Homo sapiens: one gene and its partners. The protein of the gene in region 3 purifies or fractionates together with the protein of the main gene of each other region. This does not show direct contact. Each region holds a gene or a part of one and is shown on either strand. Other genes may lie near its edges. The genes, in order: CAMK1D, SMC1A and EEF1AKMT3.

Region 1 (3,500 bases), on a different chromosome or scaffold from region 3:
GGTGCAGAGAAAAAAAAAAAAACCGAGAAGCTACCCAGGGGGAGGGCTGAGCCTGGGACACACAGCTAACTAGGTCACTCCAGCACCGGAGCTGGGCCAGAGGACGTTTCAGGCAGAGTCTTTTGCTTAATGCTAGCATTACATGAACTAATCACCCCTGTTGGGAGCAAATGTTGAATGGCTCAGCGGGCCTTCCAAATCTGTGGAAATGGCCTCTGAGGGGCAGGGATAAATGATAGAGAGCGGGCATTGACTGCACACACACCCACGTGCCACACACGGCTCTCAGTGGTTCCCGTGCACCCTCATTTCATCTTCACCACAAGCCTCACATTAGGTCCAAGTGTCATCCTGTTTTACAGATGAGGACATGAGGCTCAGAATGGTAAAATAATTGGCCCAAAGCCATACAGCTAGGAAGCTGTGGACCCAGGATTTCCACCCATATCCGTGTAACCTCCGAGCCTATGTTCTTAGCTACTCACTGTACCAGGAAGAACAACTGTGGATTGTTCTTCTCTGGCTGACTGAAGAATTGTTTATGATTGCTGAAACCATAAATTTTGGGGGAGGTTAAATATGCACCATCCTGCCTATTTGCAACAAGAGCTTCCAAAAAATCAATTTCCAACAGATACTGACGTGTTCTTCCCCAATGGAACCTGCCCCAAATGTCCAAGGGAAGCCAACCTCAGCTGCTGGAGGTAACTACAGCTTGATGACAGTTACTGTATATTCAATCCCAGTTATGTGCCAGGTACCTCACATATGTCACTGAATCCTTACAACAATCCCACAAGGCAGCAACTCCTATCTCCCTCTTAAACTCAGAGAGATTAAGGAATCTATCCAGAGGCATTCAGCTATGAATGCCTGCACCAGAACGATCTTTCTGTTATGTTACGTTGCCTCCTTTACCCGGCCTCAGCAAATATACCCTATCAAAGGCTTGCTCTCAAGGTTCAGTGTTCACCAGGAGACAGAATCCCCCATTTCTTTTTTCTTTTATTTTTTGAGACAGAGTCTCACTCTGTCGCCCAAGCTGGAGTGGAGTGGCACAATCTCGGCCCACTGCAACCTTCGCCTCCCAGGCTCAAGCGTTTCTCACGCCTCAGCCTCCCGAGTAGCTGGGATTACAGGCATGCAACACCATGCCGGCTAATTTTGGTGTTTTTAGTAGAGACGGGGTTTTACCATGTTGGCCAGGTGTTGAACTCCTGACCTCAGGTGATCCACTCGCCTCAGCCTCCCAAAGTGCTATGATTACAGGCATGAGCCACTGTACTGGGTCCCTCATTTCTTTTTTCTTTTCTTTCTCTATGGGGACACGGTCTCTCTCTGTCACCCAGGCTGGGGTGTAGTGGTACCATCATAGCTCACTGCAGCCTCAACCTCCCAGCCTCAAGTGATCCTTCTGCCTCATTCTCCCAAAGTGCTGGGATTACAGTTGTGAGCCAGCACTCCAGGCTGGAATCTCTCCATTTCTAAGTCCTGCTGAAAGATTTGGAAAAACAGCACAAGACACAGAGAACAGATAGCTGAAGATATAAAATGAACTTGGTCTGTGGCGGAATGAACTTGACCTACGGCATGTATTTGGAGGTGACCTTTGATCTAACTGGAGCCTGAATAATCAATACACTGCATAATAAACCAAAAAAAAAGAAAAGAAAAGAAAATCAAGTGAGATCTAATAAAAAACTACCCCGGAGAAAAAGAAATCTCCCTCACCACAGAAAGTCAAAGGGGCATAGCCAACGTGAACCGAGATCAGGCTGGAATCTTTCCCGGAGTCCACGTGTCCTCCTGCACTAAATAAGCACGGAATTGACCATCTTGCATCAGGAAAATAACGTGGGTCCGCTGACTCGGGCACCAGCTTCATGGTGGCTGCCTATAAGCAGTTCCTTCATTAATTAAAGAAACATAATGGCCGAGTGCAGTGGCTCATGCCTGTAATCCCACCACTTTGTGAGGCTGAGGTGAGCAGATCACTTGGCGTCAGAAGTTTTAGACCAGCCTGGGCAACACGTTGAAACATAATCTCTACCAAAAATACAAAAATTAGCTGGGCGTGGTAGTACGCGCCTGTAGTCCTACCTACTCGGGAGGCTGAGGCAGGAGAATCACTTGAACCCGGGAGGCGGAGGTTGCAGTGAGCCAAGATCACGCCACTGCACTCCAGGCTGGGTGACAGAGTGAGACTCCGTCTCAAAAAAAAAAAGCAAACACCTGTAATCCCAGCTACTCAGGAGGCTGAGGCAGGAGAATCGCTTGAACTCGGGTGGCAGAGGTTGCAGTGAGCCGAGACTGGACCACTGCGCTCCAGCCTGGGCGACAGAGCAAGACTCTGTCTCAGAAAATAAAATAAAAACTTAAAAAGTAAAAAAAGAAAACATATCCCCGGTGGGCAAGTTGACCAGTAATGTGACAAATCTCCGCTGGACCCATGCCTAAGCCCTCCCAGAGGAGAGAGGAGGAGAAGCAGGAGGAGAGAGATTGAAGGGGATTTAAGGAGATTTATTTGGGGAAAGGAAAGATTAAAGAGATTTACAGAGACCCAGCCAAAGGAAAACTCAACAAGTTAACCCTTGAAATCCTCCCCTGAGAGCACACAAATCTCCACCTGGCACCAGCAAACCTAATTACTGTCCATTCAGTGGCCAAGTTCGAACCAGAAATTTGTACTTGAGACACAGTCATCATTAGCTTCTCTGGGAACAAGCTCTACCCAAACTCCCACTTCCCAAATCTCATTTTACTAATCAATAAGGACACTGAAGTTTGTTATCTTCACCTTTTCTTTTTTTTTTTTTTTTTTTTTTGAAATGGAGTCTCACTGTGTCACCCAGGCTGGAGTGCAGTGGCACAATCTCAGCTCACTGCAATCTCCACCTCCAGCATTCAAGCGATTCTCCTGCCTCGGCCTCCGGAGTAGCTGGGACTACAGGTGCACAGCACCACACCCAGCTAATTTTCTGTATTTTTAGTAGAGACGAGGTTTCACCACGTTGGCCAGGCTGCTCTCGAACTCCTGACCTCAAAAGAGGAGGTACCTCAAAGTCCCTCTGAGAATTTCACCTTCAAATTCAGAAATCCCTCCCCAGGGGAGCCCAGAAGCCCAAGGCTGTGTGCTTGCCCGTTTCCAGAGCCTCCCAGCACACGGGCACCCATAATGTGTAGACAGAGCAGGTGCTCCGAGAATTCCTGGGGAAACTGAACAAAACCACCAAATGAACTGTTCGTCCAAGCCCAGGTCCTTGGGGAATCTCACACCCCACATCCAGTCCACCAGCAATTCCTACCAGCTCCACCTTTAAAACACATCCGGAATTCGGCCAGGTGAGGTGGCTCACGCCTGTAATCCCAGCACTTTGGGAGGTGGGGGCGGGCAGATTTTTTTTTTTTTCTTTTTGAGACGGAGTCTCACTCTGTCGCCCAGGCTGGAGTGCAGTGGTGCAATCTCGGCTCACTGCAAAATCCCAGGCAGGCTCCCACAT
Region 2 (3,727 bases), on a different chromosome or scaffold from region 3:
AGTACCTACCTTGTGCCAGGTTGTCTTGTGCTAGGTATTGGAAGGGGGACAAGGGAGATGGAGGTAAGACAGATGAACACAACACAGTCTTTGCTGAAGGAGGTCATCCCTTGTACCCTGGGCTTCAGTTAGCAGTTTAGCCCTTTGCCCATACAGTAAATATTCATTGCTGTCCTACTTCAAGCCAGTCTCAAGGGATATAGAATTGAATCAGACTGTATTTCTTTCCTCAGGAAACATATAGAGTACTGGGGGAAACATCAATTTGAGGACAGTGTGATCAATGGTGTAATTAAGGTAGATACAAAATACTGAAGAAATTTTCAAGGAACTGCAAATCAACAACAGGAAAAATAAAAAACAATGACAAGAAACCCAATGGAAATGTGGCTAAGTACTTATGATACCCAATGCAATGAAAAAAGTAAAAAAAAAAAAAGTGGCAAATAATATAGATAGGCTTTCATGGAAAGAGAAGTTCAAGTGGCTAATGACCATAGGAATTGAGGTCTAACCTCTTAATCAGAGAAATGCAAATTTAAAAGTCTGACAGTATTAGGTGGAAATCTATAGATGTCCTGTGTAGTATGTGAAAAAAATATATGTGTATATATATAATGTATATATATACACATATATAAAACCTATGGGTATATATCCCTGAGAGAGTCTTGCCATAGGGTCCCAAAGAGATACACATTCAGTGTCATTCATCTTGGCATAACTTGTAGTAGTGGGACATTGGTGGCAATGTAGATGGCCATTACTGGGGGAGCATAAGTCAAATGAATATATAGACTGGAATACTGTGTGGGAGTTCACAGCAAGAACTAGATTTGTGGGCAGTAATGGATAACTTATAAACCTGGTATTGACCAGAAAAAAGAATAAAATTTATAACACAGTAGATTTGTGTAAATTTTAGAACTAAGACATTTTACAAGGATATGCATTTTTAAGGAATGCATGTGTGTATGTCACTTTGTGGTGCATGTTCACAGTAGGGAAGGTAATGGGAATGGAAATTGGGGATTGAAACAAAGAGGACAAGGGAAGGGTCTTGCCCAGGCAGTGGTGATAAGTGTGTTATGAACTGTGGGATATGATTAACTTGCTTCTGCACCTAAAGTCTAAAAAGGGAGGAACCCAACAAAGTGTAATAGAAACTAGGAACCTGCTCAGAACCGTCAGGAAAGGTTTTACAAAACAGGGAGTGATGACTGGAGACCTGAAGAGTGAGTAGGATTTAGCCAGCCAGGCAGCGACAGAAAAAGTGAATTCCAAGCAGAGAGAACAGCATGCTTGGAAGTGTGAGAGAGCATGCCTTGTTCTGGATACTAAGTAGTTTTTAATGTCTGGAGCATAAAAGCAGGGTCAGGAAGAAGGTGGGGAGTGGTGGAGAGGTCAGCAGGGGCCGGATCACAGAGGCCTTTGTGAGTCATACTTAGGAGATTGGATATAAAATTGCATAGCTCAAAATTATAGAGTTAGTTATATTTCATTTGGATTATAGTGGCTAATAGGTTTAAGCTGCTAGCATGACATCTGGCAACATCTGTCACACCATATTGGGAGTTGGAGAGGGCAATTGGAAGTTAGTCCTGCCTGGCCTGCCAGTGCCTGTGTATGCTGGTTGCATACTCTTGAGTTTCTGAAGAGATGGAGAGGAGGACAATAGCAGGAATCCAGTATTTTCTCCATGTTTTTGTACTATCCAAGTTCTGCCCTTTAAGAGGTTCTGGGACCTTGGGGCAGAAGTTGGGATGCTGTAGTTGAAGCCCTTGGACAAAAGTAAGCTGAGTACAGTCAATATACCTGGTGATAATGGTAACTAAAATTGATTGAGTAGTTATCGTGGACTCGGTGTGGTTCTAAGGACTTTATACATATTAACTCATTTAAAAATCTCCCAATAACCCTGAGGTAGGTACTATTATTATGTTCATTTTGCAGATGGGGAAACAGGTCTGGAGAGTATAACCAACTTGCCTGAATGACATTACTAGTAAGTGGCAGAGTTGAGATGCCAGTCTTCTTAATCCACTACATTATGTTGCAGTGGTGGTATACTAGAAAGAGCCCGGGTTTTGGTGTTAAATCTGGGTTTCAGTCTCACATGTGCCATTTACTAGCTGTGTGGCCTTGGGCAAGGTCTTTTACCTCTTGGCCTAAGTTTTCCTCATTTGTAAAATTAGGATAATAATGCCTACTTGCAGAGCTGTTGATTAGAGGATTAGAGATAATGTATGTAAAGTACATAGAAGCCTAATAGGAATTACCATAGCTGGTAGAATCAGATGGACTCTTTTATGCCTCCTTGTAGGAACTTGGAGGGCGCTGGGGTCTTCATTGTTTAAAGGGGGATAAATAAGGTTTGGCCGAATCTTCCCTGCCTTATGCCATGTCCACAGGGCTAGGCTGAGGAACTTAGTTCTTCAGCTTCAGGGGACCGTTTTATGTGCATATGGATGGATGAAGCAAGTTGTGACTGAAAATCAGTAACTCTGGGTCCCTGAGCCCTGGGTCTAGTTTCCCTTTCTTCCCATAGTTGGATTTTGTACATTGGTTATCTCTGGCTGATGAGATTATGAGTGATTCTCCCCCCACCTTTATACACAGTTTGGAGTTTGAGAATCAGAAGACTCGCTTGGGCATTCAGTTGGATTTTGAAAAGAACCAACTGAAGGAGGACCAAGATAAAGTACACATGTGGGAGCAGACAGTGAAAAAAGATGAAAATGAGATAGAAAAGCTCAAAAAGGTAAGGAAGGAAAGAATTAAAAGACAGACTAATAACTGGGAGGAAAAATGGGAAGAAATACGACAGACAGAAGGATAATGTCCACAACTTAGAAATTTCTCATCTAAATCAATAAGAAAAATACCAAGACCTAAACGGGAAAAATGGATAAATGTCACAAACAGTTCAAGAAGACTTTCAAATAGTCCCTAAACACATACAAATAATTTAGTCTTACTAAAGAAATGCAAATTAAAGCAACAATTAGATACAATGTATTTTGTAACACATCGTGGAAAATGTAAAAACAGAAGACACAATGCTCAATACCAGCCATGGTATAGGAGACCAGTATTCTTTTTTTCTTTTTTTGAGATGGAGTCTTGCTCTGTTGCCCAGGCTGGAGTGCAGTGGCACTATCTTAGCTCACTGCAACCTCCGCCTCCCGGGTTCATGCCATTCTCCTGCCTCAGCCTCCCAAGCAGCTGGGACTACAGGTGCCTGCCACCACGCCCAGCTAATTTTTGTATTTTTAGTAGAGACGGGGTTTCACCATATTGGCCAGGCTGGTCTCGAACTCCTGACCTCATGATCCACCTGCCTCGGCCTCCCAAAGTGCTGGGATTACAAGCATGAGCCACCGTGCCTGGCCAGGAGACGAGTATTCTTATGTAATGTGGCACCATCCTTCAAGAAGCTTCACAATGCATTTATACTCTGTAACTCAGTAGTACCTGAGGAGATCATCCAAAATGCTGGCAAAGCTTTATGCAAACACTTTGATGTTTATAACAAGCATTATTTATAGTTCCAAATTGGAAACTACTCAGTGCCCCTTGGAAAGTGGGAATTTAGCAAATCATGCTACGTTTGTAACATTATTTATGTAGTGTCTTCAAACTTTAGTAATACACAGACCCTTTTTAAAGGAAAAATAGTCCCTAAGATTGCCAGTGTTGCCTTAAATCCGTGATGTTACTTAAGTAT
Region 3 (3,727 bases):
CGCGCAGCGACCGCAGCAGCGACATCTCTCTAGCCGCGATAAACACCCTCCGGCGGGCGCACTGGTGAGGCAACAAACCTACGGCGCGGCGGAAGGGCCAGAATTCTCCAGCGGAACGCACCAAACGAGTATGGTGCCACCTGCTGGCCGGAGGAACACAGTCCTCGCCTCTACTTGATTTCTTGAGACGACACATTTCATACGGGAATTACCCCCCACCTCCCACCCCAGGTAAAATAACAGAAACCAAGAAATAAAGTCGTCACAAAACAACAACACAAGAAATGTGGGTAACATTTTATGTTTATTTTCAATGCGCATTTATATTCATTATCCATTTATGACTCACAACAAACTTGTGTGGTTGGTGAATGGGTTCGAGAATTTGTCCAAGGTCACCTAGGAAGGCAGGGGTGGAATCCATTAAACAAAGCGAGTAAATATTTATTGAATGAGCACAATATCTGTTGAACACCTGTTGTGTGCCAGGAACTGTGTTAGGCTTCAGGGGTTTAGACAGGAGTAAACCACAGCCCTACCCTCCAAGGTAATTTAATGGTGAGAAAATGAGAATCACAAATGTCCATGCAAGACAAATTAAGGTCCCATAAGATGAACCTTATGGGTCTCAGGGAGAAAGAAATCACATTCAAGCAAGAGGCTCAGGAAAGAGGCAAAGAATAATGAAGATTTTGACAGGTGGCAATAGCCTTTCAGGCAGAGGATTATCATAAAGAGTGTGAAAGAAGTCAGAAAACTTTAGTGTGGTTTTAGAGAACAAAGAGTACATCTTTTGTAATTTGGCCAGAGGTCCAATACACGTAGCAAAGGAGTAGGAAATGCAATAGGAAGGTAATTTTGGATCACATGGACACAGACTAAGTACCAAGCAGAGGAGCTTGTTCTTGCTTCTACAGGAAGTGAAAGCTAATCAGAGCTAATTTTGGAAGATCACAAGAGTTTGCGGAATGGACTGAAGGAGAAAGCATGGAAGCAGGGAGTCCAGAGAAGGTGACTATGTGCCTAAGCAGTAAGTAAAGAGAGCCCCAACCAGAAGTACCAATGTGGGAAGAGAAAAGAGGTTAAGGCAAAACACATTAGGAACTGTGTTAGGCTTCAGGGGATTAGAGATTAGGAAGGAAGGACTGATGAAGCTAAAGAAAAATCAAAGATGAAAAGAACTTAGTACTAGGTACAGTATTCTTCTGCACACAATGATGTTCCGTGATCAAGGCTCTAACTCTGGAAAGCATGAAGAAATACAGTCCAAAGGACAGCTCTGCAGCCTTAGCTTCAGAGCTAGGAGGACTTGACCCAGTTAGAGCCATGGTTCCACTAGACTCTATCTCTAAAAAGCAGGAAATGGGTGGTTTGAGGCTTCTTCCTTCTCAGCTCCTGAGTAAAAGTTGGGTTCTTGCACAATAGATTTTTAAGGCTTAATTCTTTCTTAAAAAAAAAAAAAAATCCTAGGCTAGCACAGTGGGCCATGCCTGCAATCCCAGCACTTTGGGAGGCAAGGCGGGTGGATCACTTGAGCCCAGGAGTTTGAGACCACCCTGGGCAACATGGCGAAACCCTGTCTCTACTGAAAATACAAAAATTAGCCGGGTGTGGTGGCGCATGCCTCTAGTCCCAGCTACTTGGGGAGCTGAGGCAGGAAGATCATCTGGGCCTTCAGAGGTTGAGGCTGCAGTGAGCTGTGATCACACCACTGCACTCCAGCCTGGATGACAGAGTGAGACCCTGTCTCAAAAAAAAAGAAAAAAAGAAAAAAAAATCCCACAGAATTTTTTTAAAGTCCATTCTGTGTAAACAGCAACAGGAATGGAAGTGATCAGTGACAGTCTGTCTACAATCACTGCTCTCACATCCCATATATCTCCCTTACCCCCTAAAAATCCTGGATACCTTACCATCCTCCTTCTCTGAGAACAGGAGCCAGGAACCTCCTTGGTGTTCTAACACTAGTGCTGCCAGAACTCTGGGATTCCTTGTAAGCAGGCACCTCACTGCACCTGCCCAAGAGTATCTGGGGTAACAAAGAGGGAAGGAGGAAAGTGAGAGAGGCCAGGGAAATCCATCCTTTTTGGTCCTCATGTTTGTGGCTCTGGAAATATGGTTTTTGAGATACACAGTTCCTTCATTAGAGCAAGAGATTGAGAAGAACAGCAAGGGTGATGTCAAGCAGGTCTTGGTTCCCTGTGCCTGGCCCTATAGATGTTGACATTTTCATCCTCATCCCGCTGAGCCAGCTCCAGTTGGAAATGCTGGGGCAGGAGGTGCTGAAAGAAGCTCTCTGTCCCATGCTCCTTTCTCATCTTGGAGGCCAGATAGATGGTGCCATGGGGCCTGCACAGGTGTTGGAGGGTCCCCAGCAGCAGAGGGAAGGTGGGTTCCAGGTACACGATATCAGCCCCCAGCACCAGGTCATAGTTTGCAGGGAAGACATGATGGTCAATCCCCCAGGACAAGGCACGCACCTGGGCCTGGCCTCCAGCTGGCACATTGGCCTGGACGTTGCCCTGGATCTGTTCTAGGGCCAGGGGCAGGTCAGTGATGGTAACATCCCCCCCTGAGAGAGAGGAAGGAGGAAAAATGCAAGTCAGAGGAACCAACCAAGGGTTCTTGGCTCCTGCCTGGAAGGTCCAGAGACCTCAGAGCATAGAGGACAATGTCTTGACAGCCCAGAGCCCACACTGGCTTTTAGTTGCCTCAACCTCCATTTCACCCACTGCTATTCTCATTACTCTACATTCTACAACATCAACATTCTCTCTGAGCTAATCTTCAACCTCTCTGGCCAACACACAACAATCAGATGTCAGCAGAAGCCTGGGCAGGACTAAGCTGGAGATGGGTTCTGTACCCACCCCCACTGACACAAGCTCGCCTTAAGGGTCTGGAAAGCTTCCCAGAAAATGTGACCTCAGCTGAGCCCTAAAGGACAAGTAGGAGTTAGTCAGGTGGAGCTTTCCAAGAAGAGAACAGTGAGTACAAAGGCCTGGGAGTGAAAGAGCATGGCATATTCAGGAAAGGCTGCATCTTAGAGGATGTGGAAGGGGGAGAAAAGTGTCAAGACATGAGACAAAGGGAAAGTGATTATGACATGCTAAGAAGATTCAGGTTCGATACTGAGGGCAGTAAGCTTTAAGGGCAGAAACGGGTGAAGATGGTCAGATTAGCATCTCAGAAACCTTCATTCATGCAGTAGATATAATTTGGAGAACCTTCTAAGTGCTGGGTATATAAGGTGAGCAAGACAAAAACACAGCTTTCTTTGTTTCATTCTAGAGGTAGAGACACACTAGGTACTGCATCATAATCATGATGACTATGATAGAAAGAGAAGCAAGAAGTACTAGGAATCCATTCATTCATTCATATTTATTATGTGCCTATATGCCAAGTGCTGAGAACATAATGATGAACTAAGAAGATAAGAATCCCCCCTCACAGAGCTTATGGTCCAGTGGCAAGAAACAGATGATAACAACAAACAAAATAAATAAAATAAAATACACTGTACATCAGATGGTAATATATGCCATGGTGAAGCCCCAAGCAGGGAAGGGGGATAAGAATTGCTTGAGGGATGGGGAGAAATGCAAGTTAGAGGGACCAACCAAGGGTTCTCGGCTCCTACCTGGAAGGTCCAGAGACCCCAGGGCATAGAGGACAAAGTCTTGGCAGCCTGAATGTAATTTTAAATTGAGTGGCTGGAGAATGA

What was found.
Region 1: the proteins of EEF1AKMT3 (region 3) and CAMK1D purify together in Homo sapiens (affinity purification with mass spectrometry; one large-scale study listed by BioGRID and IntAct). This does not show direct contact.
Region 2: the proteins of EEF1AKMT3 (region 3) and SMC1A purify together in Homo sapiens (affinity purification with mass spectrometry; 2 studies listed by BioGRID and IntAct, with this or other methods). This does not show direct contact.

Annotation. Positions count from the first base shown.
Region 1 is NC_000010.11:12,356,047-12,359,546, reverse strand, and holds part of CAMK1D (calcium/calmodulin-dependent protein kinase type 1D), read right to left. Parts: intron 1-3,500. UniProt on the Homo sapiens protein: Calcium/calmodulin-dependent protein kinase that operates in the calcium-triggered CaMKK-CaMK1 signaling cascade and, upon calcium influx, activates CREB-dependent gene transcription, regulates calcium-mediated granulocyte function and respiratory burst and promotes basal dendritic growth of hippocampal neurons.
Region 2 is NC_000023.11:53,398,623-53,402,349, reverse strand, and holds part of SMC1A (structural maintenance of chromosomes protein 1A), read left to right. Parts: intron 1-2,619; coding exon 2,620-2,761; intron 2,762-3,727. UniProt on the Homo sapiens protein: Involved in chromosome cohesion during cell cycle and in DNA repair. Central component of cohesin complex. The cohesin complex is required for the cohesion of sister chromatids after DNA replication.
Region 3 is NC_000012.12:57,779,100-57,782,826, reverse strand, and holds the end of EEF1AKMT3 (EEF1A lysine methyltransferase 3), read right to left. Parts: intron 2,573-3,727; coding exon 2,181-2,572; 3' UTR 286-2,180; downstream 1-285. Other genes in the region: TSFM (elongation factor Ts, mitochondrial isoform 1 precursor), read right to left, coding at 1-25. UniProt on the Homo sapiens protein: Protein-lysine methyltransferase that selectively mono-, di- and trimethylates 'Lys-165' of the translation elongation factors EEF1A1 and EEF1A2 in an aminoacyl-tRNA and GTP-dependent manner.